Linked DNA regions of Homo sapiens. The protein of the gene in region 1 purifies or fractionates together with the protein of each later gene. This does not show direct contact. Each region holds a gene or a part of one and is shown in the gene's direction. Other genes may lie near its edges. The genes, in order: HTN3, MGP, LTF, MUC7, ZC3H3, PLCH1 and COL1A2.

The links.
Region 2: the proteins of HTN3 (region 1) and MGP purify together in Homo sapiens (affinity purification with mass spectrometry, with the first as the bait; one study listed by BioGRID). This does not show direct contact.
Region 3: the proteins of HTN3 (region 1) and LTF purify together in Homo sapiens (affinity purification with mass spectrometry, with the first as the bait; one study listed by BioGRID). This does not show direct contact.
Region 4: the proteins of HTN3 (region 1) and MUC7 purify together in Homo sapiens (affinity purification with mass spectrometry, with the first as the bait; one study listed by BioGRID). This does not show direct contact.
Region 5: the proteins of HTN3 (region 1) and ZC3H3 purify together in Homo sapiens (affinity purification with mass spectrometry, with the first as the bait; one study listed by BioGRID). This does not show direct contact.
Region 6: the proteins of HTN3 (region 1) and PLCH1 purify together in Homo sapiens (affinity purification with mass spectrometry, with the first as the bait; one study listed by BioGRID). This does not show direct contact.
Region 7: the proteins of HTN3 (region 1) and COL1A2 purify together in Homo sapiens (affinity purification with mass spectrometry, with the first as the bait; one study listed by BioGRID). This does not show direct contact.

What each region holds. Positions count from the first base shown.
Region 1 is NC_000004.12:70,027,012-70,031,258, forward strand, and holds the start of HTN3 (histatin-3 precursor), read left to right. Parts: upstream 1-1,447; 5' UTR 1,448-1,505; intron 1,506-3,716; 5' UTR 3,717-3,729; coding exon 3,730-3,780; intron 3,781-4,247.
Region 2 is NC_000012.12:14,883,055-14,887,179, reverse strand, and holds the start of MGP (matrix Gla protein isoform 2 preproprotein), read left to right. Parts: upstream 1-1,325; 5' UTR 1,326-1,388; coding exon 1,389-1,449; intron 1,450-2,292; coding exon of another isoform or gene 2,293-2,367; intron 2,368-2,934; coding exon 2,935-2,967; intron 2,968-4,125. UniProt on the Homo sapiens protein: Associates with the organic matrix of bone and cartilage. Thought to act as an inhibitor of bone formation.
Region 3 is NC_000003.12:46,447,906-46,451,405, reverse strand, and holds part of LTF (lactotransferrin isoform 1 preproprotein), read left to right. Parts: intron 1-732; coding exon 733-911; intron 912-1,377; coding exon 1,378-1,552; intron 1,553-2,388; coding exon 2,389-2,543; intron 2,544-3,500. UniProt on the Homo sapiens protein: Transferrins are iron binding transport proteins which can bind two Fe(3+) ions in association with the binding of an anion, usually bicarbonate. Lactoferricin binds to the bacterial surface and is crucial for the bactericidal functions.
Region 4 is NC_000004.12:70,471,055-70,474,996, forward strand, and holds the start of MUC7 (mucin-7 precursor), read left to right. Parts: upstream 1-1,142; 5' UTR 1,143-1,237; intron 1,238-2,952; 5' UTR 2,953-2,967; coding exon 2,968-3,021; intron 3,022-3,942. UniProt on the Homo sapiens protein: May function in a protective capacity by promoting the clearance of bacteria in the oral cavity and aiding in mastication, speech, and swallowing. Binds P.aeruginosa pili.
Region 5 is NC_000008.11:143,471,948-143,475,447, reverse strand, and holds part of ZC3H3 (zinc finger CCCH domain-containing protein 3), read left to right. Parts: coding exon 1-50; intron 51-3,500. UniProt on the Homo sapiens protein: Required for the export of polyadenylated mRNAs from the nucleus. Enhances ACVR1B-induced SMAD-dependent transcription. Binds to single-stranded DNA but not to double-stranded DNA in vitro. Involved in RNA cleavage.
Region 6 is NC_000003.12:155,490,072-155,493,571, reverse strand, and holds part of PLCH1 (1-phosphatidylinositol 4,5-bisphosphate phosphodiesterase eta-1), read left to right. Parts: intron 1-718; coding exon 719-843; intron 844-2,703; coding exon 2,704-2,788; intron 2,789-3,500. UniProt on the Homo sapiens protein: The production of the second messenger molecules diacylglycerol (DAG) and inositol 1,4,5-trisphosphate (IP3) is mediated by calcium-activated phosphatidylinositol-specific phospholipase C enzymes.
Region 7 is NC_000007.14:94,422,395-94,425,894, forward strand, and holds part of COL1A2 (collagen alpha-2(I) chain precursor), read left to right. Parts: intron 1-562; coding exon 563-724; intron 725-1,941; coding exon 1,942-2,049; intron 2,050-2,722; coding exon 2,723-2,830; intron 2,831-3,215; coding exon 3,216-3,269; intron 3,270-3,355; coding exon 3,356-3,463; intron 3,464-3,500. UniProt on the Homo sapiens protein: Type I collagen is a member of group I collagen (fibrillar forming collagen).

The sequences.
Region 1 (4,247 bases):
AGCATAAAACATTTACCTAATAAATATTTCCTTTAAAAACCACACAAATTCATTTTATTTTATTTTATTATTTTACTTTAAGTTCTAGGATACATGTGCAGAATATGCAGGTTTTTTGCACAGGTAAACGTGTGCTATGGTGGTTTGCTGTATCTATTAAGCCGTCGTCTGGATTTTAAGCCCCGCATGCATTAGCTATTTGCCCTGAGGCTCTCCCTCCCTCCCCAGCCACCAGCCCTGATGTGTGTTGTTCCCTTTCCTGTATCAGACTCAAATTAAAAACATAATCTCTATTAGTGGGATCAATCTAAAGACAATGCGTTTACAAATCTGTTATATAGTTTTTCAAACTCTAAAGTACACAAATAATGTTCTGGACATGTTCTTAAAATTCAGGTTCCAGGTGTACACCCCAAGATTCTGACTCAGTAATTTTGGAAAAGTAGACTAAGAATTTGCATTTCAACAGGTATGAGCTGATGCTGATTGTGATGGTAGTATGTGGGACATCCTGAGGAACAATGGACTGAGCTGTACAACTTATCTGAACTTAGAAGTTAGTTTTTAATACTCGGTTCTTAGCACATTGAATTAAACAACCGGTAGTGAGTAGGTGATCTTTTATACATGTTTGTCTATTAATTTAATTAAAATTCTATTTTTCTCTTTCTGTCTAGTGTACTTATTTCAATAAATGACCTCTGTGAAGATATATGGGCCCCTGAAAACTCCAGGGAAGTAAATTCAAATTTCTAAACATAAGAAATCAGTTTTATGTGAGAGATATGTGACCAAGCACCTAGAAACGTTTGACATTAAATATGAGAATACTTTTATCATATGGCATCCAAAAGATGACTGAATTTTGGCCAATGTTTACATTCATTTTATTACTTAAAATATTCTAAGTCAATGTAAGCAGGTAAAAATACAAGATAAATGATGATTTGTAGGAAAACTTTTGAAGTGTAGAATGACTCCAATTTTATTATGCCAATTATCACTATTTACTAGAGAACGTGTAAAATTTTTCATAACATGGTAAGTATTATTTTTGACATAGCGTTGTTCCATCTTGGACATATATTTGTTGAAAAGTAGTAGATGGTATTCTACAGAAACATCTTTATCACTGCAATCATTTCTATGCCTGGTTTCCTCCAGCGTGCTTTTCCGTTGTCTGACTCACTCAGGGCTAGACTAACACTGGGATTAGCATGTGATGGGTCCATTCGCTTTCCGGTTGCCTTGTCTTCACAATGATCTATTGCAGAATCACCTGGTTAAGTTTATTTTTAGAATTTGTAGAGACAGATTTTGGGCATTACTTTCCGTCTCGATCATATGATCTCATAATTGATGTTATTTTGAAAAACAAAAGGGAGATTTCAAAAAACAAAAGGGAGATTTCAACGTGTTTAAATACATCAGCCATCTAGGAAAGGACATCTCTTGAGACTTCACTTCAGCTTCACTGACTTCTGGATTCTCCTCTTGAGTAAAAGGTAACATGTTCAAGTACAATCTAATATTATATATTAGCATAAGCTTTTGTTTGCTAAAATCAATAGTAACCCACTTATGAAAATGTATATTATCTATGATAATTTCTTATAAAGAAATAATTACCATTTATTGGCATCTGAAGATGACTTCTAGATCTCAATTCCTATGAATTAACACCAGCAATCATCATGCAAAGTAACTAATGTGGAATATGGCAATGTATTACATCCTCGCTGATGGTGGGACCTCAATGAACTCTTTTTATTTCCTTGCCTAGATACCTGATATCTACTTTCTTATTACTTTTATATTAAACTTAATGTAGAAGTTCACATTTTACAAGATACTGATAGATTCTGTCTTGCAAATTCATTATTATAAAAATTTATTTTTTAATTTACTTTCCTCTTAGTCGTAAACTATTTTATTACTTTTTCATTGGCCTTTCCATCATTAAAAACAGTTCTGTTATAAATCAAAATATATACTGTATAACAATTAGTCTTCTCAATCTTACTAATTTATTTAACTCATTTTCATTCATTTGTGTTATGGCAGAAAAGACAGTTTATTATTCCAAATTTTTATTATTGATTTACTCGGGAAATATGTTTTTCAAAACTATTAATTATACATTGATTATCTATGTTCATTTATCATTTTATCTGTTAGTAAAAGAAGGGCACTTTCTTACAGCCTTTTTTGATTTTCTATTTGCAACACAATTGACAGTCACAAACAACGGTAAAATTGTCTTTTTATATCATAAAAAGAGTCATAATTTGATTTATCTATTAGGTAATAGAAAAACTTCAAGAAATATATAATTTTTATAGTTAGTCCTATACAAGAAGTTTCCATTTAAATGAGTGAAGCAAAATGAATGAAGAAATAATAAGGCAAATGGGTTCTGCTTTCTGTGATAGAGATGTAGGGCTGTTTAAGAGTAGGACATTTTTATTATAATTAGATGAAAAACGTTACTGTAATGTTCTATCACAAGTGACAGGTAAGAGAGATTAGAAAAATTTTTTAAAATATTATCTATTAATGAATTACTTTATAGCTAGCAACTAACAAATAAAAATGCCATGTAATTCTAAGTTTTGTGGTAATTGTATTTTCCAGTGGAAATGCTTTTATTTACATGTTTGTAATTTAGAAATAAGTAATCCGCTTTACTTTTTTATATCAGCCGAAGAACTGGATTCACTTGCATATGCATAATTATAAAAACATATCAGAGTCCCAGATGAGGCTTTGAATAATATTATTTGAAATATTGAATAATCTTCACCAGTTCAACTTCTCAAAGTAGATACAATCATTTTCCCTGTGACTTCTCTTCATTTTATTTTTCTCTAACCAATACCATTAATGTTCTAATCTCAAGGTTGCACCATCTGTGCTATTCTTTAATAGAAATCTGGCTCATATTCACTGACTTTATTATAAAGAAAGTCCCCATTACTTGCCATTCTACTTTCTAAATATGTCTTTACACTGTACTTTAATTAGCATTCTTAATGTCATTATCTAAATCCCTTGTAATGTCACAACAACCTAAGTGGTCATCTTTTCTCCAGTTTTGTCCTCCCTACATGCTAAACTGTTTGAACTTTCAACATGCTTTCCTCTCTGTTGTATTTCATTGCAGTCTCCCAACACCTCCCTTTACTCATTCCATATAATCCAACTCAAGCTTGCCTTTCTTTGTTATCTTCTTACTCCCATTATCTTGGTCTATTTAAGATGTCCATTTGTGTGTTTCCTTAGCATATTAATAATTCCAAATTAGAGCACTCACCTTTATTTATCAATTAATGAAGCTATGCCCTGGGCTCACACCGAAGATCCAAGCATTTTGAAAGGCCAAGGCAGGAAGATTCCTAGAGCCCAGGAGTTTCAGAACAGTCTGGGCAATATAGTGAGACTAAAAATATTCTCTACCAAAAGAAAAACAAATTAGCTTGTCATGGTGTCACACACTTGTAGTTCCACCTACAAGTGGAACTAGGGAGGCTAAAGTGGGAGGATGGCTTGAGCCCAGGTGGTCCAGGATGCAGTGATCTGTGCTCATGCCCCTGCACTCCAGCCTGGAAAACAGAGCATGTCTCCCAATGCTTTGAAGCATAGTGTCATCAGTAGAAGTTTGATGAATGAATGCATGAAAGAATGTGATTACTGATTTTTCATGTTTGATTTTATAGGACTCAGCCAACTATGAAGTTTTTTGTTTTTGCTTTAATCTTGGCTCTCATGCTTTCCATGACTGTAAGTATATCTGGAAGTTTTAAAGGATACATTCTCAGTACTTATCCCAAGGATCTTTCTTATTCCTTACGTTCTGCCATATATTCATGTTCACCTCAATACAGCTTTAATATTTCTATGTAAAGATTTTCCTTGAATTAACCTATATAAGTTCTTAAAGGACTTAGAATAAATATTCATTACATACCTGCGAACACTCAAGTACAATTACTTGAATATAAAAATAAAAGAAAATTAAGCAAGCTTCATAAATATGTGGGACTGAGAACTGTGAAAATATCTTTAAATATTAAAAGCTCTAGACCACCTGAAGTTAGAAATCTGAGGAAAGAACAAGGTACACTTCAATGGAACCTAAGTATTAGAGGGTGTCAAAATATGAATTTTCAAGTAATTTCTTGCACAACCAAACTGTTCAAGTTAGCATACAATTTATTTTACTCTTTCTAAAATAAAGCTGCCTATTT
Region 2 (4,125 bases), on another chromosome or scaffold:
GACAAAAAGAATGAAGCATGAGGCTCCACCTAGTTCATCACTGCTCCTTGAAATACATCAGTATTGAAAGACACATCCACCCCACCCCCAACCCAGCCCTATTGCTGTTCCAGCTCAAGAGTCAGAGGTCCCGAAGCTGTAGCTCTTCTACAATCTGCTGCTCTGTGACTTCAAGTCTGTTGTCTGCAAAGAAAACTATTGGGTTCCCAAGCAAGAGAGGCACATCTGGTAGGACAGATTTTGTGATTGCAAAAGAAGGGGGAAAAAAAGAAAGAAAGAAAAGACCTCTCTATACAAGATAACCAGAGGCATCAAACTGAAATCCTCCTGTGGAAAATAAGCTAGTACTTCTGGGCCTGATGGTGTAGTGAAAACCTGTGCTTGAGGATACATTACAGTGAAAGAGCAAAGTGAATAGTAAGTAGCTATTACTTACCTCCTTAGGGAGGTGTGTTGTTTGTCTGTACATCCCCCACAGCACCTAGCACAGTACCTTGCATCTCACCTGCCACTCACTAAAAAGTCTATCAAGTTAGTTAATTATCGAGACAACGCCCTCAGAAATGAGAGAACAGTACCCTCTTATCCTTGCTGCACTTTCCAGCACTGATACGCTGCCTAAAAGAGGACTAGGGCACAGGTTTGAATTAATGTCACAAAACTGGATGGGCAAGTTACAACGGTGTTGATTAAGGAAACAGAACTCATGGTGCACCGGATATCTCCATCCTGATGAACCCTTGGAAAAATGCCAAAGATGCATATCCCCAGGCAAATGCCTGATTAGTCTGGGATTGATAGATTGGTCTAGGATTCAGCCCTACTGGGAAGATGTCTAAATTATAATCAGTGTAGAAAGCGAAGTTCTCCTAGAAGAAGAGGCAAAGGTTAAAAAGAAGAAAAGAAAAGAAAGTGAAGTCCTTTCTCCCCCAAAACCTCTCATCAATCAATCAGGGTAACAAACAGAACACTAGGGCTCTGTCTGTGGACCAAACCCAAAAGCCCTGCGGTCAGGGCCAGGAGGGTAGATCATGTGTTTGTGGCAACTTCCTCTGTGGGCTTTTGCCCAGGTCTGTCCCCAAGCATACGATGGCCAAAACTTCTGCACCAGAGCAGCATCCTGTGTAACACAGTCAGGTCCAGCAGTTAGGGAAAACTGCCCACTCAGAGTAGATAATATCTGGAAGGAATGACTGTTTGGGAAAAGTTCCAATGCTAGTTCAGTGCCAACCCTTCCCCACCTTCTCCAGCTCTCTCCCACTGGTTCCTCCCCTCTCAACTGCTCTGGTTCTTATAAAAACCTCACAGCCTTCCACTAACATCCCGTAGGAGCCTCTCTCCCTACTGCTGCTACACAAGACCCTGAGACTGACCTGCAGGACGAAACCATGAAGAGCCTGATCCTTCTTGCCATCCTGGCCGCCTTAGCGGTAGTAACTTTGTGTTATGGTGAGAAACTTTTCTCCCATTTCTCTGTGTTTACTTTTCTGCCTCTGACTTTGGCTTACTTCTATTTTTCCTCTCCCTCCTCCTCTTCTTCCCCCTTTCTCTGTTATAATCTTAAAGTACCATTACTTTCACATTTCCCAGTCTCCGCAGAAACTGATCTGTTCTATTAAGTCTTTTTTATATCCTAAATATCCAGAGTCTTATGCAACTTAACAGGCAAACCCGTTCAGTGGTAAGTCTCTGTATATCTAGAAACTCATATTTCAGAAAGAAGATACCAAATTCCCAGCCCCCTGCATCCTCATTTTTAAGGATATTTATTTAGACTTTGGTATCAATGGGTTAAGGGTATTGTTTAAACCACTTGCCTTTGAGAAAATCCATTTTTATGTGAAGTATTAAGTATAGCCCTTTCTAGGGACTGGACAATCTCATGAACTTACTATGTTTGTTCAGTTAATTAATTTTAAAATAAAGTTTTACATCAAAAGAATTTTAGAAAAGAATCATTTTCATAACTCCTGTTGTCAGAAAATAAATTTTGCCTGTTTTCTATATGTCATTAAATATACCTGCATTTGTTCAAAGCTTATAAAAGGAAATCTGAAGCAAAGTTATTTACTTATTTCAGTCTTTTGTTTCAATTACCTAGATATTTTCATTGTTTTAAAATTTAAATTACATTAACAACCATAAAGATTATGCTTCTCACTCTTGTATTCACAAATTTTCTGTATTAGAGGATTTGATTTCTTCACCTCCTTTTTAAGTTTTGAAGAAAATTCACTTGCTGGCAAATATTAATAGAAGCTTCTTATTCCAAAATTTATCTGCTGTGCTCAGGAGAGTGGCAGAAAGAAGAAAACTTCGGCTTTGATATCGTTTCAGTTCTCTCTCTGAACTGGCATCGTGCCCAGGGTGAGCTGTCAGCTGGAGCTAGTGGTTTCTGTGGCTGCCAATTTAACACAGGTTCTTAAGAGGCTTTCGGAACCCTCTTAGAAACCTGCCCTAGTAAGCCCAGCAGAGCAACTGCCCTGTAGTTCTCTTGCCTGGAGAAACCTGGCTGTCTTCTGGATCCTTCTTAATCCTCTTTGACCCTGTTCTCAAACAGGCTCTGAATAAATCAGAGAAGAAGGTTCTCTGGAGACTTCTGTACAGCACTTAAAGTGTCTTATTTTGCTTGTCTGAAGACGTCATAGCCCTTGGGAAATTTTAGCTGAAAATGGCCACTCCCTCCTTCAACATCAGAGAAACTAAAATATAGAGATATCCACAGCAAGGCCAGAGCTAGAGAAAAACCTCATAAATCCTAAATTCCTGAAATTTCTAATAACCACACTGCTAAATATATTCTTCATGTTTTTAGACTCTTTCCTCTTCTTCCATCCCTGTATTTAAACTATCACAGTGTCTAAATTGATAAATAATAACATAATGAATCATGGATAAATATTGATATAATGAATCTTTTTTTTTTAATTTCAGAATCACATGAAAGCATGGAATCTTATGAACTTAGTAAGTGAATATTTAACTTCTTTATTCAAATCCCTTGCATTAAAGAACCTCTTCTTATTTTTAAATAAACAAGATGGAAAGATATATAACAGGGAGGGAAAAGGGGGCCTCTTTTGGAAAACTAAAGTAAATTTTTAAATCTAATGACTATAAAAATTGCCAAAGGAGCAATTTTTTAAGTTTGAAGTAGTGCAATATGGGATTTAAGCTACAGGCGACATATTTAGAAGCCATAAAATCTCATTTGGAAATTTTAAATTGGCACCACGTCAACTGCACAGATGGAAAACGAGGAGTAATGACAAATGGTAAAGCACAGAGCTGGACGCCAAGTCAGCTGGGAGACCACAGGCGCCACGTTAAGCTGAGTGCTGTTTTGGTTTTTTTGTGTTTTTCTTTCTTGTTTTTTTTTTTGAGACAGTGTCTCACTCTGTCGCCCAGGCTAGAGTGCAGTGGTGTGATCTCGGCTCGCCGCAACCTCCACCTCCCAGGTTCAGGCAATTCTCATGCCTCAGCCTCCTGAGTAGCTGGGATTACAGGCCCATGACATCATGCCTGGCTAATTTTTGTATTTTTAGTAGAGATGGGGTTTCACCATGTTGTCCAGGCTGGTCTCGAACTCCTGGCCTCAAGTGATCCACCCACCACAGCCTCCCAAAGTGCCGGGATTACAGGCATGAGCCACCACACCCAGCCAGCTGATTGCTGTTGAATAGCTGGATTTATAAAGACTGAGCATAGGAGGAAATGGCACATCACTCTCATTTTTAATTTATTCATTATTTTTATAGTGTTTAAACTGTTCATGTATCGGCAATCTAGTTATGCTTCATAAATCCTCAGGACAGAGAATTTCTCCTCAAAAGGAATTTAAAATCTACCAAGTAGAAATACAGAAATTAAGAAAGGCAAAGTGATCGTCCAAACTCAAAACCAACAAAGCCTATATGACAAGTCTCTAAGACACATGGATTGATTACTGATTTCATTTGATCAGGAAGTTAATGAAATCTACTTTATACTCTCCTTTAATTTTTGCCAATCTCCGTTTATATGAGTTGCATAAGTTAAGGCACTTTCAAATATATTTGTGTCAAGGAATATTCACGGAAATATTTCCAGCTATGTGTCGCTAAAACTGCATTTATTTATTTTCTG
Region 3 (3,500 bases), on another chromosome or scaffold:
TAAACCTTCATTCCAATCTATTAGCTTTTTAAATACTCTGTGAGATTGAGTTAGTTAGTACGTTATTTACAAATTTTGCATTTATGTTCGTAAGTAAAATAAACTTTTAATTCTTCCCTCCTATACTTTTTCTGATTTTGACATCAAGGTTGTACTAATCTCATAAAATGACTCGGGCAAGATTTTTTTCACTTTACACATTCTGAAGCAACTTATATATGATATTCCACATTTGCCTGAACTCATTCATAAAACCATTCTTCCCCTTCTTTTGATATACTCAGTGTTGGAAAGTGTCTCACCTTCCTGCCTTATTCCCTGCCTTGTTAACATTTTTGTCATTTTTATTCTTCCCAGAGATGTGAGTAAGGGAGCAACCCTTGGTGGCCCCCTGAGCTTGTCTCTGCAAAGTGACTTTTCCAGGCAGAGATGCCGCAGAAACAGACGGGTCTGGTTTGGCCTCTCTGGCCTGCCAGGCAGCAGCTGCACGGGAACCCCAGGGTGGCCTAAGTGATTTAGGATGAGGATCACACCTCGGCTGCCCCCTGAGGCTTTTGGGGCACTACCTTTACCTTTCTGAGTGTTCTGGAGCAAACCCCTGCCTTTCTGACCCTCAGTTTTGTCAGCTATCTCCCCAAGCTCAAAATTCTATAGGGAGAAGGGGAACTATAGCTCGAGGTTACTGCTGGAGTCGGCTTATCTAGACTCCCTCCCACCTCACCTTCCCTGCAGAGGACCTGTCAGACGAGGCTGAAAGGGACGAGTATGAGTTACTCTGCCCAGACAACACTCGGAAGCCAGTGGACAAGTTCAAAGACTGCCATCTGGCCCGGGTCCCTTCTCATGCCGTTGTGGCACGAAGTGTGAATGGCAAGGAGGATGCCATCTGGAATCTTCTCCGCCAGGCACAGGTATCTTCACCCACGGTCCTCCCCACTTGCTTGGATATGGGGGGCAGGGAGCAAGGTTTCTTACTTCCCTGACTTCTGCCACTCCAGAAGTCCTGTAGCTTTGCTGCAGGATAGCACACTAATGCATTGGGCTGCTTGCCCAGGCTGTACTGTGGACAGCAGAAGCAATGAAACTCTTCTGTCACACGGGCTGACAGCGTCTTATGATGGGAGCAGAAGCAGGGGGTGGTCGATGCAATCTTCTCAGGGCCCTAAGGTGCTTGGACCTCAGCAACTCTTCAAAGAATGAGCCATAGCTGAGCTTGGGTCTCCGAGATGGCACAAGTCCCTCTGCAGGAGGGTCTCAACCGAGGCTCCTGCTCTCAGTTAGAATGATCCCAAAGCTCCAGATACTCTTTTTTAACATCATTTTTTTGTTTCCTCCCTATTTACCATTGACACCATAATTCTATTTTTTCTTAATTAGGAAAAGTTTGGAAAGGACAAGTCACCGAAATTCCAGCTCTTTGGCTCCCCTAGTGGGCAGAAAGATCTGCTGTTCAAGGACTCTGCCATTGGGTTTTCGAGGGTGCCCCCGAGGATAGATTCTGGGCTGTACCTTGGCTCCGGCTACTTCACTGCCATCCAGAACTTGAGGAAAAGTGAGTGAGCCCAGGAGGGTCCTGAGGTCCGCCTGGTGTGGTCTTCTACTTCCCAGCAGGTGGCCCTACTTTGTGGCGGTCACTCCTTTTCCCAGACACTGTGGGGTCATCGTGGAGGTTTGATGCAGGTGTGAGTGTCTTCTGTGGATTAGGTCAGGTGTCTCTAAAAGAATAGTCTGGCCACCTGATCAGTGCACGTCAGGCTCCCCAGGCCTGGCAGAAAAATCAGTTTGCCTCCTATTAAGTGAGAAACATGAACATGAACAAAGATAGCCAGGACCCCTCCTGGATGAATCCGGGGGCCTGGATTTACCCACACTTCCCAGGCCCAGACCTTGAACTTAGTTGGGGACACCATGGTGGGGGAACTCAGCTATGGCTCCTTCTCTACTGGGGGGCTGGGGGTGGGAGTCTGGGGGAACCCAGAGGCTGCACCGTAGTTATTGGTGGTGATTGCAGGCGTTAGGGGAAGTCAGGGTTGGGCTCAAGGTCCCCTAGGCCATCTCTTGGGACTGTCACTGGTCTCTGGGTCATGGAGCGTTTATCCTCAGAGACAGAGACAATAGGCGCCTCCTGACTCTAAAGATTAATGGATAGATTAGAAGCCAGGGAACTTCTCCAAAGGAACAGAAGTGGGAAACACAGGGAGCTCTGTGGACCTGAAGAAGGGGCTTGGAGCTGAGAAGTGGAGGAGGAGAGGGTATGGGTCCACATGTCCACACATGTACTGTAGCTCCTGTTCCAGGGAGAGTCTGGGCAGGACCCTGGCTCTGGGGAGGTTGGACAACCTGGCAAAGCTCAGGTTGCCCAGCCACCTGCGGTCTTCCCTCTGGCAGGTGAGGAGGAAGTGGCTGCCCGGCGTGCGCGGGTCGTGTGGTGTGCGGTGGGCGAGCAGGAGCTGCGCAAGTGTAACCAGTGGAGTGGCTTGAGCGAAGGCAGCGTGACCTGCTCCTCGGCCTCCACCACAGAGGACTGCATCGCCCTGGTGCTGGTAGGGAGCTCCATCACAGGGGCGGGCGGTGGGCCCGGTGGAAGACCTAGGGCCTGGGCATCTGCTTAAAGTGAAGTCAACAGTCAAAGAGGCCACGGGGGCCTGGGTGAGGCAGGGATGCCTGGAGAGGTGTGCTCAGGGCCAGAAAGCATTTTAGTTTCAAAAAGCAGTTTACTGTGGGTTTCCCACTCCTCTGGTTATAAGAACAACTCAGGATTATTATAAGGAATTTGGAAAATATGGAAAGGTATTATGTTAAAACAAAACAACAACAAACCCCCCAAACCACCTGTGATCTCACACAGAGGGACAGACATGGTTAAAGTCTGGCTAATTCTCCATTCCAGTATTTCTCTGCACATCTGCAGATATGCATGCAACAATAATGAAGTGTTGCAGTATGTCGTTTTTAAGCCCTTTTCACTAAACAGCGTATAATGGGCATTCTTCCACATGAATATTTACTCTTGGAAAGCATTAATTTTTTTTTTTTTAAGAGACAGATTCTTGATCTGTCACCCAGGCTGGAGTGCAGTGGTGCGACCACATCTCACTGCAGCCTGGAACTCTTGGGCTCAAGTGATCCTCCCATCTCAGCTTCCCAAGTAGCTGGGGCTACAGGCATACGCCACCACACCTGCATAATTATTATTATTATTATTGTAGCGACAGGGTCTCGCTTTGTTGCCCAGGCTCGTCTCGAACTCCTGGGCTCAAGCAATCTTCCTGCTTCGGCCTCCCAAAGTGCTGGGATTACGGGTGTGAGCCACAGCACTCGGACGAAAACATTTTTTAAACATGCTTCCAGGATATCTTTTATGTGAATATGGCTCAGTTTAGTCATGCCCCCATTCCTCTTTGTCCCTTACTTTGCTATTATCAATAACCCTGTGGTGAGCATTCTTGAGTAGAAATCTTTGTCCACTTCTCTATTTTTAATATAGTTGTAAAAATATT
Region 4 (3,942 bases), 440 kb from region 1:
TGTAAGCCCTCAGAGACTGTATGTGCAAAAGAACAAACTGACTAGCTAGAAGTGGAATCACACCTTCAAAACTGTATTCCAGATTAACGATTTTACATAGTAGAAATATCTAATTTTGAAGATCTCTATTAAAATGATTCTTAAGTTCTTTTTTAAGTTATTAAGTTTCTTTTTAAAAATAAATATTTATAAAATGACTAGTCTAGCTATCAAAATATCACTACCATGGGGGAAATGGGAGAAAATTTTCTGGGATAAAAGAAACTAGAGACATAACAAGTCACTGCAACACACGGCCCTTAGTTGAGTCCTGGTAGGAACAAAATGACTAAAAATATTTTTGCCAAAATTTGAGTATAAACTCAATTTTAGATTATATGTTTGAATTATTAATATTGTTATAGGTTGATGGTGTTGTGTTATAAAAGAAAGGCTTTTTAGAGAGAAATGCTGAAATAGAGAGTAGCTGTTACAATTTCTGTAGTTTACCTTAAGATACTTCAGCAAAACAACTAAGATATATAGCAAAATGTTAAGAATTATGAAAACCAGGGAATGAGTATATAGTTCTACTACCCTCCTCACTTTTCTATATGTTTGAATATTTTTCAAGACAAAAAGTCAAAAATTGTTTTTAATTACTTGTATTTAAAAATTCAGTGTTGATTTTTTGGCTTTAAATACTGCCCTGCACCAGTACTTGGCACCACAGTATTTTTTTTAAATCCTCTGTCCTTTATTAACTTGTCTTATTGACAAGGAAATATGGTGTTCCATCACATTAACTGTCAGAAGGCAATCACTCTGCTTACTTTGAGAGCCCAACAGGAAAGAGTGGATGATCTGTTCCTGTTGGGAGGACCTGGGCCATGGTTGTTTGTTTCTCCGTAAGCGCCTTCAATTACTGTTCCACTACTCATCAAGCACATAAGTTACTCATTGAGAACCTCTGATCGTCACTGTGCTCATCAGGAAGAAATTGATGCACAAAGAACTACTGTCAATCTCAGCAAACCACAACTATTCTTTTCTTTAAAAGTAAATTCCTTGACACAAATGACCTTATCTTAAATCTAATAGATTTCCTATTTCCAAAAAGCTCGACTGGAGTGTTATAAAACCTGAAAATTCTCTTGTGCTTTCTCTTCTTTTGCTTCTAGTTACCATCCTCAAAGGATTGGCTAAAAGCAAGCAACTGGATTGAACACCCTAAGAAGAAAGATTCACACTGCACCAGGTATGTGGATACTTTAGATAGGTTCTAATATAAACTAAACAGCTTTCAAGTAATATACATATATTAAGTAATAGCAATAGTTGTTCTAATACAGTTATTCTCCTCTCTTCTTATGAACTGCCAAACAGTGTGGTAACACTCAATTCATATGTTATTAGAACACAATATGATTGGTAGGAATGTTTTTTGGTCTTGAAATTTAAAAACAAATCTGACAATATATTAGGAACCTGAAGAATAATAAGTAACCATTTCGTTTTTCAATTGGGTCAGATTGTTTTCTTCTTAGTGTGCTAGTACTATAATAATACCACTGAGACTTTATTATGGATAAGACATTATTCTCAGTACGATTTGTAATATATATATTATTCCAGTCAATCCTCAGGACATTCTTATGATGTAAGATTGCAACTCACTCAAAGTCATGCAGTGAGTGGCAGAGTCACACAGTAAGTGGGCAGAGCTTAAATCAAGTCTCTGACTGACTCTAACACCCATTTTATAAACCATGGGATTGTATTGTAAAGTGTGTCTAATCTCACAGCCCACCACATTGACATGCACACTAATTACCTGCCCTAATATGTAATCTGTCTATATGATTTAACCTTTATTTTGTTTTCTAAAGCTGATAAGCTGACATGTACACATTACATATATAACCAAAATGAGAAAAACAAAAGACCACATTCTTCTCTCACTCTTCCCTTCTACAACCTATAGCCAAAATACAATTCTCTTTTGCAAGTAGTTATTCAAAAAAAATATGTATTAAGTCTGCACTATGTACTAGGCATGATGACATAACAATGAATAAAGAATAATTCCTGTCATTTTGGGACTTAGAAAAAGGGTATCGGCCAGACACGGTGGCTCACACCCGTAATCCCAGAATTTTGGGAGGCCGATGAGGGTGGATTGCTTGAGCCCAGGAGTTCAGGACCAGCCTGGGCAACACAGTGAAACCGTGTCTCTACAAAAAATAAAAATAATAATAGCAATAGCCAGGAGCGGTGGTGCATGACTGTAGTCCAAGCTACTAGGGTGGCCAAAGTGAGAGGATCGCTTGAGTCTGGGGGGTGCAGGCTGCAGTGAGCCATGCGTGTGCCACTTCACTCCAGCCTGGACAACAGAGCGAGACTCTGTCTCAAAAAAAAAAAAAAGGTACAAGAAAAAGGATTATCAAATGGCAAAATCTTCAGTAGAATGAAATTGGAGGAAGAGTCCATTTGACCTGGTTCTTTGTTCCAAGTGACAGCCTTATAGCACAGCGACAAAGAGCATTTTCCTCTAACATCAGGAGTCTTTGCAAAACTGTGTAGTATCAGGTCATTTATATGATGGTTCCCCACAGAGGGGAGCTTCCTGAATTAGAAAAGAAATAAGAAGAAAATTATTTCCTTTTCTTATTGCTAAACTTCCTAAGATCCTGCCTTTCCTAGCCAATCTTTAATATCAATAGAAAATGCTCATTTTGCAAACTAGTTAGAATAATTCTTGAGCCTCCTCCATTGCTTCCTCTCTAAAAGAATGCATTTTAGGCCTGAAGCAATTTTGCATCACCCCTATGGAATGAAAATGTATACATAATTTTCAGAAACCATTGGTCTCTTTTTGCCTGTACTTTCTAATAAAAATAAGTTATTTACCAAAACGCATTCCTCTCCCATAATATCATAACTAATAGTACGCCACATTTCTGCTTTTCCCAGGAGACATCAGAAAGAATGAAAACTCTGCCGCTGTTTGTGTGCATCTGTGCACTGAGTGCTTGCTTCTCGGTAAGTATTCACCCAAATAAGTTTTTTCCTTAACTATCAATAACAAACATTTAGTGTACCTACCTGAGACTTTTAAAGCATAATAGGCAACCCCTATTTCCAAGAAGCTTGACATCTTTTATTTCCAGGAAACCTATAAATATGGACAATTGGCCGGTGCACTGGCTCACACCTCTAATCCCAGCACTATGGGAAGCCTAGGAGGGAGGATCACTTGAGCTCAGAGAAGTTCAAGACTAGCCTGAGTAACATAATGAGACAGTATCTCCACAACAACAACAACAACAAAATTTAATTAGCCAGGTGTGGTGGTGCGTGCCTGTAATCCCAACTACTCGGAGGCTGAGGTTGGGATCTTAAGCCTGGGAGGTCAAGGCTGCAGCAAGCCGTAATCATACCACTATGCCACAGCCTGGGTGACAAAATGAGACCCTGTCTTAAAAATATATACAGATAGGTAGATAGACTAGATAGATAGGTAGATAGACTAGGTAGGTAGGTAGGTAGGTAGGTAGATAGAGCATAAGGAAATAATTTGTTTCATTTATCCAATATCTATAGAGCACAAACTTTATAGTGAGTGTGATGAGAACTGACACAGATGAAAACCCAGGTTTGTAAGGCCTTTAGGTCTTGGTGTGGAATATGGTTTCAAATCTGTCAGGAAGTCTCAGCATGATCAAAGCACTCCCAGGGGATTTACATGACAGGATTCTCAGGAGAAGATAGGTAGCAGGTAACAAAAGCTGAGATAAGGAGACTAGTCAGGAAGCTATGGCAGTGGTCCAGATAAAAGATGATGGTGACTTGCACTAAATTTCAGCAATTAAAAGATAAGAGTGGGTTTAGGATATATTTTAGTGATTGAGTCTACTATATCTTCTGCTGGATTGTATATGTGGTAAAAGAAAGAAATGAACA
Region 5 (3,500 bases), on another chromosome or scaffold:
GACCTCCGGCCAGCCCAGTGATGCGGGCAGCAGGCCCCTCCTGCGCACAGGTGAGAGGTGAGGGCGGGGGCGCTGGGAGATGACACCGACCGGCTAGCGTGTGGTGGGCATTGCAGGCCAGACCCCCTAACCTCCAACATGCTGTGGCTGCTCTGGGCCTTGGCTCACGCCCCTGTCTTGGGGAGGAGGTCAGGGGCCTCATGCTCCCAGGGAGCCAGTCCAAACAAGCACTTCCCAAATGGGTCACGTCCCATCCTGGGAGTTAATTTCACTCTTCCATACACCCGGCGCCTTCGTAGCCATCCCTAGTGAGACCAACAGGGCAGCCGGAGAATGGAGGGTGCCAGGAGGCCTTCCTCTGCCATCCCCCAGGAAGGGCCCTGGAGTGGCGCCCACCTCGCGTGGCTGAGCGGCCCCTGATTTTCTGTGGGGTGGGGGAGAGTTGCTCACAAGCACCATGTTTCGCTTTTGGAAAAAGGATGATGCCAGGTACGGCAAACACGCCCGGGCGAGCGCACACCTGGGGCCGCGGCGCCCGTAATCGCATTGGCGACGCCTCGACAACTGTGTCTGGAGGCAGCCGGCGCCGCCACCTTGCGCCCTCCCAGCCCAGGGAAACAGGCTCAGGAGAAGGAAATGCTTTGGATTCACTTATCCTACAAATTAACTAGAAAAATATTTTGGTTTCAGTCCAATTTTACCCCCTTTCTTGTCCATCAAAAAAAAAGAGGGAGATTGCAGGTGGTGTTGGGATTGCAGAGGCTGGGCCATGCTGGCTCCCCGACCCGCCTGGGACCTAGAGAGAGAACAGGTTCAGCCCCTGGAGGAGGTAGACTCCGACGGCAGGGTCTGCGGGGGTCAGAGGAGAGGCAGGAAGCGTACCTCCCTGGAAGCCAGCCTCACTGGCCGCCCTGCCTGGCTGTGTTCCTAGCATCCATCTCTGGGCTCCAGGGGCTTCTGGGCTGTTTCCTGGGCAGAGTCGCTGGGAGCAGCACGGGGGCCCTGGCACCTGCCCCACAGGGCTCTGAGCCACACTGTGGCTGGTCAGTGCCCATGACCATGCCTGTAGCCTGGTGGCTGGGGCTGGGGGGTCCTGGTGAACTGGGCAGGAATAAATCCCCACTCGCTGAGGATCTGGTGAGAAGCCCTGGGTCCCTTCCTCGGCACTGTGTCACCCCTGTGTGTGCCTCCCACTCACTGAGGATCTGGTGAGAAGCCCTGGGTCCCTTCCTGGGCACTGTGTCACCCCTGTGTGTGCCTCCGCTTCCCCACCCGTACCTTGAGGGACTGGGCTGTGTGATTTGTGCGTGTGGTCTCATCTCTGCTACACCCCGGGTGCTCAGTGCAGGAGCTGGCTCAGAACATGGGGGCCTTGGTGAGGCTTTGCCCCTGGGGGATGCTGCCGTGGGTTGGGGGATAGGCCTTCCTGTCACCCAGCAGGGCCTTCTCTGGTTACCTCTGATCCTCGGACTCTGGAGCTTGGTGGCCTGTGGGGCTACACACAGCTGTTTGTATCGTGGAGGGGAGGGGCCTCGGGCTTCTCTCCAGCAGTCATTTCCCTGAGTGAAGTATAAGCCCCTGGCCAGTCTCTGGCACAGCAGGTCCCAGGCGCCTGTGGCCGTCCACCAGCCACCAGCCATGTGAGCCAACAGGGACCCTGACCAGTGGAGCTCCCGGGGCCAGCAGCAGGTGCTCTGAGGACATCGTGCTTGACCCCCAGGGACAAAGCCATGAGGTGCCTCTCTGCTCATGCCGGGTGGTCCCACCTTCCCCTGGGCCTCCTTGGCAGAGGCCAAGCCCCACGTTGGCTGGCACTGTCCTGAGTGCACTGACACTGCAGGCACAGTCCTGGCACTGGCTTTCCTCTCTGGTCCTAGAGGCAGTGGGCAGAGCAGCCAGGCTGATCCCTCTGCCCAGGGAAGGGCACCCCGAGCCCTCACCTGCCTGCCTGGGTGGGAGGGTGCCCTGCATCTCCCATGGATGCTGCCTCTGACGTCCCTAGTGCAGGGAGAGGCGTGGGCTGAACACCAGTGAAGATTCCTGGGGCCCACAGGTGTAAATACGCAGACTCGTGTCCAGTCAGGTGGTCAGGGAGGCCTTTCTCATGAGCTGAAAACTGAGAGGGCCCAGAAGGGACAGAAGCAGCAAGAGCATCCTGAGGCCGCCATGCAGAGGCCTGGGCAGGAGTGGGAGGGGGCGTGAGGCATCGCAGGACCCTGTGCACAGCCAGCAGGGGGAGGAGATGGGTTGGGGGCAGGCGGGGTCTACCTGGCACCACTGCACCCACATTCAGAAAGCTCCCGGTAGTCACGATAGTAGTACTGACTGAGGTTGATAATTAAGTGGCCAAGACAGCAGCCATGGAGACCATGATGTCCTGACGTACGCGAGAGCCCCAGGCGGCCAGGATAGGCAGCAGAGGCTGCTCCTGGCAGTCAGTCTGCAGGCCCTGCCCTGCTCTGCGGAAGCTGGAGCCAGGGAGGGGATGCCTACTGCCCTTTCCAGAGCCAGAGCCCATCCCAGGGAGGACCCACCCACTCAGGGAGTGGCCCCCACTGCAGCAGCTGCATCCCACTCCCTGCACAGGGCCAAGGCTGGCCCCGCCTGTTCACCCAGGTCGCGGTGCGTCCTTGGGATTCTCCCTGCACCGTGCACCCGCGGGACCCACGGAGGGGCTTGTGGCATGGGTCCGTCTCCCCGCACCGGGGCCCTTGGGTCGTCTCAGCCCTCGCCGGGATCCTGTGGCCCACGTTTGTTGGGCTGGGTGGGCCTGTGTGGGGAGGTGCACCTGCCATCCCAGCTCTCCCATCCCTCAGTGTCCACAGAGACGCCTGTGGCAGGCAGCAGGTTTGCACTTGGCCCCCTCAGACACGGTGCCCACCACCCGGATGGCCCAGGGTCTGAGCTTTGGGGAGGAGGGAGTGCATAGCCCTGGCCCGCTCAGCAGTGGGGAGGAGAGGGAGGGGCTGCACACTCCTCCCTGGGAGGCTGTGGTGCTGCTGTGTCTCCCCGTCGGTGCCAAGTGCTGAGCTCCGCAGAATCTCGCCTTGCCATTTACACACATGGCAGAGCCCTGGCGGGCGCAGAGCCCCTGACGTCACCACACTGTGAACAGTCTATCCCGGCCACCCTTGCTGACTGGCCTCTGCCTCCGTTGGCCCTTCCCTTGGCCCAGAGCCATCAGAGAGCCAGTCTGGTTCCCCCAGCCCTTCTGGGGCATGTCTCACCCCTGCACCAGCAGCAACCCAGAACTCCTTCATTCAGCCTCAGCAACGCCAGCAAGGAGGGTCTGGCGCACAGAGGCTGGTGCCAGCCAGGGCAGGCAGGGGTCCAGGGGCCTCCTTGCTCCCACCCCTGCCCCTGGGGAGGCCCGCCTGCCATCGAGTAGGGCTATGGCCTCCGGTGTCCCGCTGGCCAGCCTTGGTGGCGACTGTGGCAGTCCTGGGGCTGTGCAGAGCCCAGTGAGGCCGCACTCGCCCTTTGGGTCGACAGGCGAGGCC
Region 6 (3,500 bases), on another chromosome or scaffold:
TCTACTGAAAATCAGAATTAGCTGGGCATAGTGGTGCGTGCCTGTAGTCCCAGCTACTTGGGAAGTTGAGGTAGGAGAATCGCTGGAACCCAGGAGGCAGAGGTTGCAGTGAGCCAAGATCACACCACTGCACTCCAGCCTGGGTGACAGAGTGAGACTCCATCTCAAAAGAAACAAAACAAAGCAAAAAAAGGATAATGTGTTAGATCAAACAACACTTTCTTTTGGTTCTGCTCATTAAAATTATTTTTAAAATTTCCAAATTACATATATAACAATTCAGATAAAAAAGTTGTTGACAGGATTATCTTCAAGATTTTACACTTTGCACATTTTCTTGCTCTGCTGTTTACTTAATTTCAAGTCTTCTTTCTGTTTGTTATATTCACTCATGCCTGAGATAGTTTAGGTTAGAAAATTATTTGAATCTGACATAATTGTTCTTCTTTTTACACTGTTGGTGTTCAAATAAAATGCTTCTCTTCCTTCATTCCACAGTTGATCATTGCATTGCAAACACTTGCTTTAAGTTGGCCCACTCCACTGGCCTTTGGCAACATGGTTTCTAATGAAAACCACAGCTATGCCACACTGATAGTTATGTGATCATGTAATTCAGCATTTGTTTTTGTTTGTTTGTTTCTTTGTTTACAAGCTTAAGCTGTGCATGCGTGTGTGTTTCTTCTTATGTTACCAACTTATACTTTACTTGGCCTAGGTACTTTCAACCCTTTCTCTGGTGACCCTCTTCCTGCCAACCCCAAAAAGCAGCTCATCCTGAAAGTTATCAGTGGACAGCAACTCCCCAAACCTCCAGACTCCATGTTTGGAGATCGAGGCGAGGTAAGTTGCCTATGACTACGTGTCTAAGTGGTTAATTATGTGATTATCTTAGTGCATTTACATTTTATCCGAAATGTCTTCAGAGATGTATGTGTGTTCATAACTGAGCACTGACCTCAGCTTATCAGACATTAACTGATTTATTGGTAAGTCACACAGTTCTTGCTGTACTGCTGTCCATCATCTATTTTGAAGGCATAAGAGCACACAATTGAATTCACAATTTAAGGTTGACACTAGCATTGCTAAAATTGGAGTGCAAAGACAATTATATTATTAACAGAACAACACCTAAGAGTATATCTTAACCTAGAAAGGCAATGTTCCGTTAATAATATAACCTCACATTCCTGTCCTCCTGCAATGCTCCTCCCTGCTGCACATCAGCCACCTGCTCCTTGGCCATGTGCTGATTCTTATTATCATCTGCTGTACCTGTGTCGCGTGATTTTAAAATGTCTTCATCTGCGGCCACAGTCTTTTTTCTTTCCAGAGCTCTTAGCCCATTGTTTCCATTATACCTTCTTGGCTTCTGTTTTCTCGCTATATAGCAGCTTCTCCTATGCTCATGCCCTTCCTCTCAGAGCTGATCCATTACTTCAGGTTCTTTGTCACTCCCGCCTATTAAACCATCATTTTTGGATCTTAAGGAAGGAAATCACAGAGCTCTACAATTTGGTACCGCCATAAATGCTTTAAGAAGTCTACTTTCTCTGCTTTAGACTTTCTTAGGTCAGCTCTTTCTAGATTCTTTGGGTTTTATTCCTTCATTGTTCGTCGCCCAGAACTGGTACCAGAAAGGAGAGTCTACAGATGACCAACAATACAAGATATTTCCCCCTAGAGGAGAGGATGGGAATTAAAGTATAAGAATCAAACATGCATAGCTTGATTAATTATTATGCCACCCAGATCAAGGCAGAGTATATCCAGAATCCCTAGAAGGCTCCTGTCCACCTTCCCAGTCAATATCTACCCTCCCCACTGCCTCTCATAGCAAACACCAACCCCTATCACAGCAGACAAATTTTGTCTATTCCTAAACTTTATATAAATGGACTCTTAGAGTAGGTACTCTTTTATGTCTGGCTTGCTCAACGTTATGTTATATAGGAGAACTTTATTCTTTTCTCATTGTTGAGAGTATTCATTGAACACATACTTCTGACCAGGCACGGTGGCTCACATTTATAATCCCAGCACTTTGAGAGGCTGAGGTGGGCAGATTGCCTGAGCTCAGGAGTTTGAGACCAGCCTGGACAACATGGCAAAACCCCATCTCTACAAAAATTACCAAAATTAGCCAGGTGTGGTGCACAATCCTATAGTCCCAGCTACTCGGGAGGCTGAGGTGGGAGGATGGCTTAAACCTGGGAGGTGGAGGCTGCCATGAGCTAAGATCATGCCACTGCACTCCGACCTGAGCTACAGAGTAAGACCCTATCTCAAAAAACAAAATAACAAAAAACAAAAAACGTATATTCCACAATTATCCATCCTACTCATGATAGAAATTTAGGTTGTTTCCAGTGTTTGACTATTATAGATACAGCTGCTCTCAGCATTTGTGCATGGGCAAAACATCTCAGTTCTGTTTGGTATTTGCCCTGAACTAAAGTTGTAGGTTCAGTGGGTAAAGTTGTTGGCGTTAATAAATACTAGCAAACAGTAATTTAATATTTTTTATACTTGTCTCATATATCTGAATCCACCACACCTAGTACCATTTCTTTTTCTTACTAAGCACCTTGTAAAATCAGTTGCTGTCGAAATGTAGACATTTTGGCCAATATTCTCAGATTAATTAACATATGTATAGAAATATGTTATTTGTAATAGTACTTTCTCTTTACTTAATAGATCATTGACCCTTTTGTTGAAGTTGAAATTATTGGATTGCCAGTAGATTGTTGTAAAGATCAAACCCGTGTGGTAGATGACAATGGTAAGATGGTAATCTGTGTTCACTTTTTAATGAAGATGGTCTAGAAATAGAATTTACACTAAAAAAAGTGTCTATGTAGAAGAGCAAGAAATCTCTAAAATCCGTAACTCCCATCTGAGTTTATGTTAAAAGCTTTTCAACACATAAAACTAAGTAACTGTGGAATTGATGCGTGGCTTATTTTTATGGTATTGTAATCTAGGCTCTCTAGACTTTTGCTTTTAAAGGAAATTTTTTTTCTAGTAAAAAGAGTAAATGATATTTTAAAGAATTGGGTTAAAAATTCACTGAGGAAATGCCTCCATTATATGTTTATATTGTATTTTTATGACATGCGTTTTCTCAAAGCTCTCATTTGTGAAGCCTATGTGTCTTGATAATTTCTCACTTTTTCTGGAGCATGTAAAACTCTAAAGGCAAGCACAATATAGTCTGGCGAGTTTACTTCTTGAATATTTACATACGATTGGAGGGGCAGCATTCTTCTTATATTTTCGCCATAATATAAAGAAATTTTTCTTTACCCAAGCCTCATGTCTTTTTATTTGTAATCTTTTAAAATTTGTTTGTTCATACATTTCACAAACATTATTGTATACCTATTTTTCCTCAATCTCTTGTGATTAATACTGTAAAATACATTTGAAGCACAATCATTAATTTGAGAAATTAAGGGTTCACAAGGAGTCCCTGAAGGAACACTACAGTTTCA
Region 7 (3,500 bases), on another chromosome or scaffold:
TAAGTCTTCTGGTTAAGGTTTCTGGGAAAAAAAAATAGCAAAGATGTTGATTTCTTGGAATCCTTTTACAGGTTCATAACAGAAAAATCTTCATTCCCTGTAGGCATTTAATTAAACCTAGTTGAGAAGTGTGTGGGATTCCTCAATTATGAACAAAACACGTATATTGGCTTTCTTTAAAAAAAAAAAAAAAGAAGAAAAAAGAAAAGGCAAAGTCCTTCGAAACTCAGAGTCCCATTCATTTATCATTAACTCCTATCATTCTACATAGTTCTGATTCCAATATGCCAGGGTACCAGTGGCATGACATTGTTTTTCCTCATAGAAATTTGCCATAGTCTCTCCTCCATTATTTGGTTGGTTACAGCCTCATAAAGGAAGACAGGAGTTGCTTCTTTCTGCAAGAAAGAAGGTTAAAAACTATAAATATTTCCCCCAAATGGCCAGGGTATTATTTTATTGCATCACATTGTTTGCATCTTAAGATCTAGAATCTTTGCTGCTCTCTTCCAGGCCCTTGGTGATTAACAGAAAGGAAATGACCTTGTACATTTGCTCATAGGGTATTTCTGGCCCTCCTGGTCCCCCTGGTCCTGCTGGGAAAGAAGGGCTTCGTGGTCCTCGTGGTGACCAAGGTCCAGTTGGCCGAACTGGAGAAGTAGGTGCAGTTGGTCCCCCTGGCTTCGCTGGTGAGAAGGGTCCCTCTGGAGAGGCTGGTACTGCTGTAAGTGATTTCCAACTCCTCTTTCTTAATACCTTATGCTGAATTAAAATAAAGCCCCTACACAAATCTTCAAGTGGCATCTATTTGTTGATGAGTATTGCAGGCTCTCAAGTAGAGCTCAGTTGAGCCAGGAAATCTGTCCAGCACACACTGAGGGGCTGTGGCTTCCAAGATGCTCAGAAAGCACAAAATCGGGAAGACAATAAATGAGGGAACTCAGTTTTATCACAAAGCCCTTAAAGCTATTGAAGGCACCTTACTGGTACCAGGATTAGAACAGAGTCCCATTGCTGTGGCCATCCTACTACATATTAATCAATCTCAGTAGGCTACCAATTTCTTAAACATACACTGTCCAGTATTAGTGCTACTCTGAAAGGTGCCCCTATTAGACCTTAGAGGCCAAAGTCAAAATTTGCTTCCTTTTGATATACTGATTTTACTGATTTCCTTTTTGTTTTTGTTTTTTGTTTTTGTTTTTGTTTTTTTGTTTTGGGATGGAGTTCCCCTCTGTTGCCCAGGCTGGAGTGCAGTGGCACGATCTCAGCTCACTGCGACTTCCGCCTCCCCAGTTTAAGTAATTATCTTGTCTCAGCCTCCCGAGTAGCTGGGACTACAGGCACACACCATCATGCCTAGCTAATTTTTGTATTTTTAGTAAAGACGGGGTTTCACCATATTGGTCAGGCTGGTCTCGATCTCCTGACCTCAGGTGATCCACCCACCTTGACCTCCTAAAGTGCTGGGATTACACATGTGAGCCACCCCACCCAGCCTGATTTCCTTTCCTTTGTGTATATACCCAGCAGTGTGATTGCTGGATCTTATGGTAGTTCTATTTTTAGTTTTTTGAGGAACCCCTCCTACTATGTACAACTATTATGTATCCATAACAATTTAAATTTTTTTATTTGTTTCCCTGCCTAGAGGCTATAAAAACTCTATTTCACCACCCCAAGTGTCTTTATAAATCTCAACCACATATTTTTAAATGTTGTGCCATTGGTCTCAAGGATGAATCAGATACAAAAGTATTCATGCCAAGATGTAAACTCACCGTCATCACTAGAGAAAAGATATCCAAGGATATGTCCTAGTAATAGGAGGTCATTAGCCTTTTTCTAAGCTGAAGACAGTTTATTCTCACAATCTTCAAGCCAACCTGTGTTATCACCTAGGGTCTTACCCATAATACTCAGTATTTTTTCTCTATTTAGGGACCTCCTGGCACTCCAGGTCCTCAGGGTCTTCTTGGTGCTCCTGGTATTCTGGGTCTCCCTGGCTCGAGAGGTGAACGTGGTCTACCAGGTGTTGCTGGTGCTGTGGTGAGTGCTTGACAGTATTCTGACTCCATTAACATAAGAAAAGATTTTAAAAGCTGCCACTTCAAATGTGACAGATTGATCACTGAATAACTTCACTTAAGATTTTTATTCATGGCATTTTCTTTATACAGATCACATGTCACTTATCTAAGAAGCTTTAATACCACCTTACTTAGACACACACTATAAAGACACAGCTTAAAATTATGCAGAATGATTTTTGTTCTTTCCACGCACTTAGGAATGATACAATCTCTAATTGCGTTTACTCCTCTGCAATATGAAATGCTGGCATCATTTATCCTGTAGGAAGAATGAAACTCTGGAAGTTCTGAATCGTTCCATTAAACCTTATACGTGACAACAACTAGAAACCATCTCATCTCCATAAAATATATCAACTTTTTGAATTCATTTCATTTGGGATACTGAATGACACGAGGCTCACTTTTTACAGAGCAACATCCCGTGATTACATAAAGCTGGCCATCTACATGTGGAGAAGGAGGGCAGAGATGATACTAATGATACTTCTTACCATTGTGTGACCCATTCACATTCAATTTACCTTCTTCCTTCAAACTAGAATCTCCTGAGTAGGGTTGTTTTGGAGGGGAAGGTTAGCATTCCATCGAATAAGGGGAATGTCATTTTATCTTCTCTGCCTGTTTAGGGTGAACCTGGTCCTCTTGGCATTGCCGGCCCTCCTGGGGCCCGTGGTCCTCCTGGTGCTGTGGGTAGTCCTGGAGTCAACGGTGCTCCTGGTGAAGCTGGTCGTGATGTGAGTCCAACACTTGGTTTGTAAAATAAAACTGAGCAGGATTTCATTGTGTGAAACTTTATGTCCTGAGCTGAGGTTCTCTTCTTCCAAATTTCTGAACAAGATGGTCAGCTTCTCCATAGTATCTACACCTAGTACTGAAAATATGAAAATTGCTTAGGCCAAAGAATGGGCTTTTCAATAGCACACTGCAAAACTGGGCCCAAGTATTTAAAACATCTCTAAAAAATATCTAGGTTGGCAGGTTTTTATCCCTAGTTTTAACAGTCTGAAAGAGGGTTCGTTACTGAGCACTGGAAGTGATGAAGACAGAGTAGCTACAACATAGGGGCTGGTAGGCAGCAGAGCCTCACCAACAGCCTTAATTTGTGTGGTGTCTTCACAGGGCAACCCTGGGAACGATGGTCCCCCAGGTCGCGATGGTCAACCCGGACACAAGGTCAGTACACTTTTCATCTTTCTCTAATTCAAAAGTGATTAAAATGCAACCCAGATTGATGCTAAGCTTCATTTTGCCTTTGGTAGGGAGAGCGCGGTTACCCTGGCAATATTGGTCCCGTTGGTGCTGCAGGTGCACCTGGTCCTCATGGCCCCGTGGGTCCTGCTGGCAAACATGGAAACCGTGGTGAAACTGTAAGTTTGTGAATACCAGTCCCTCAGTGCAGCATTC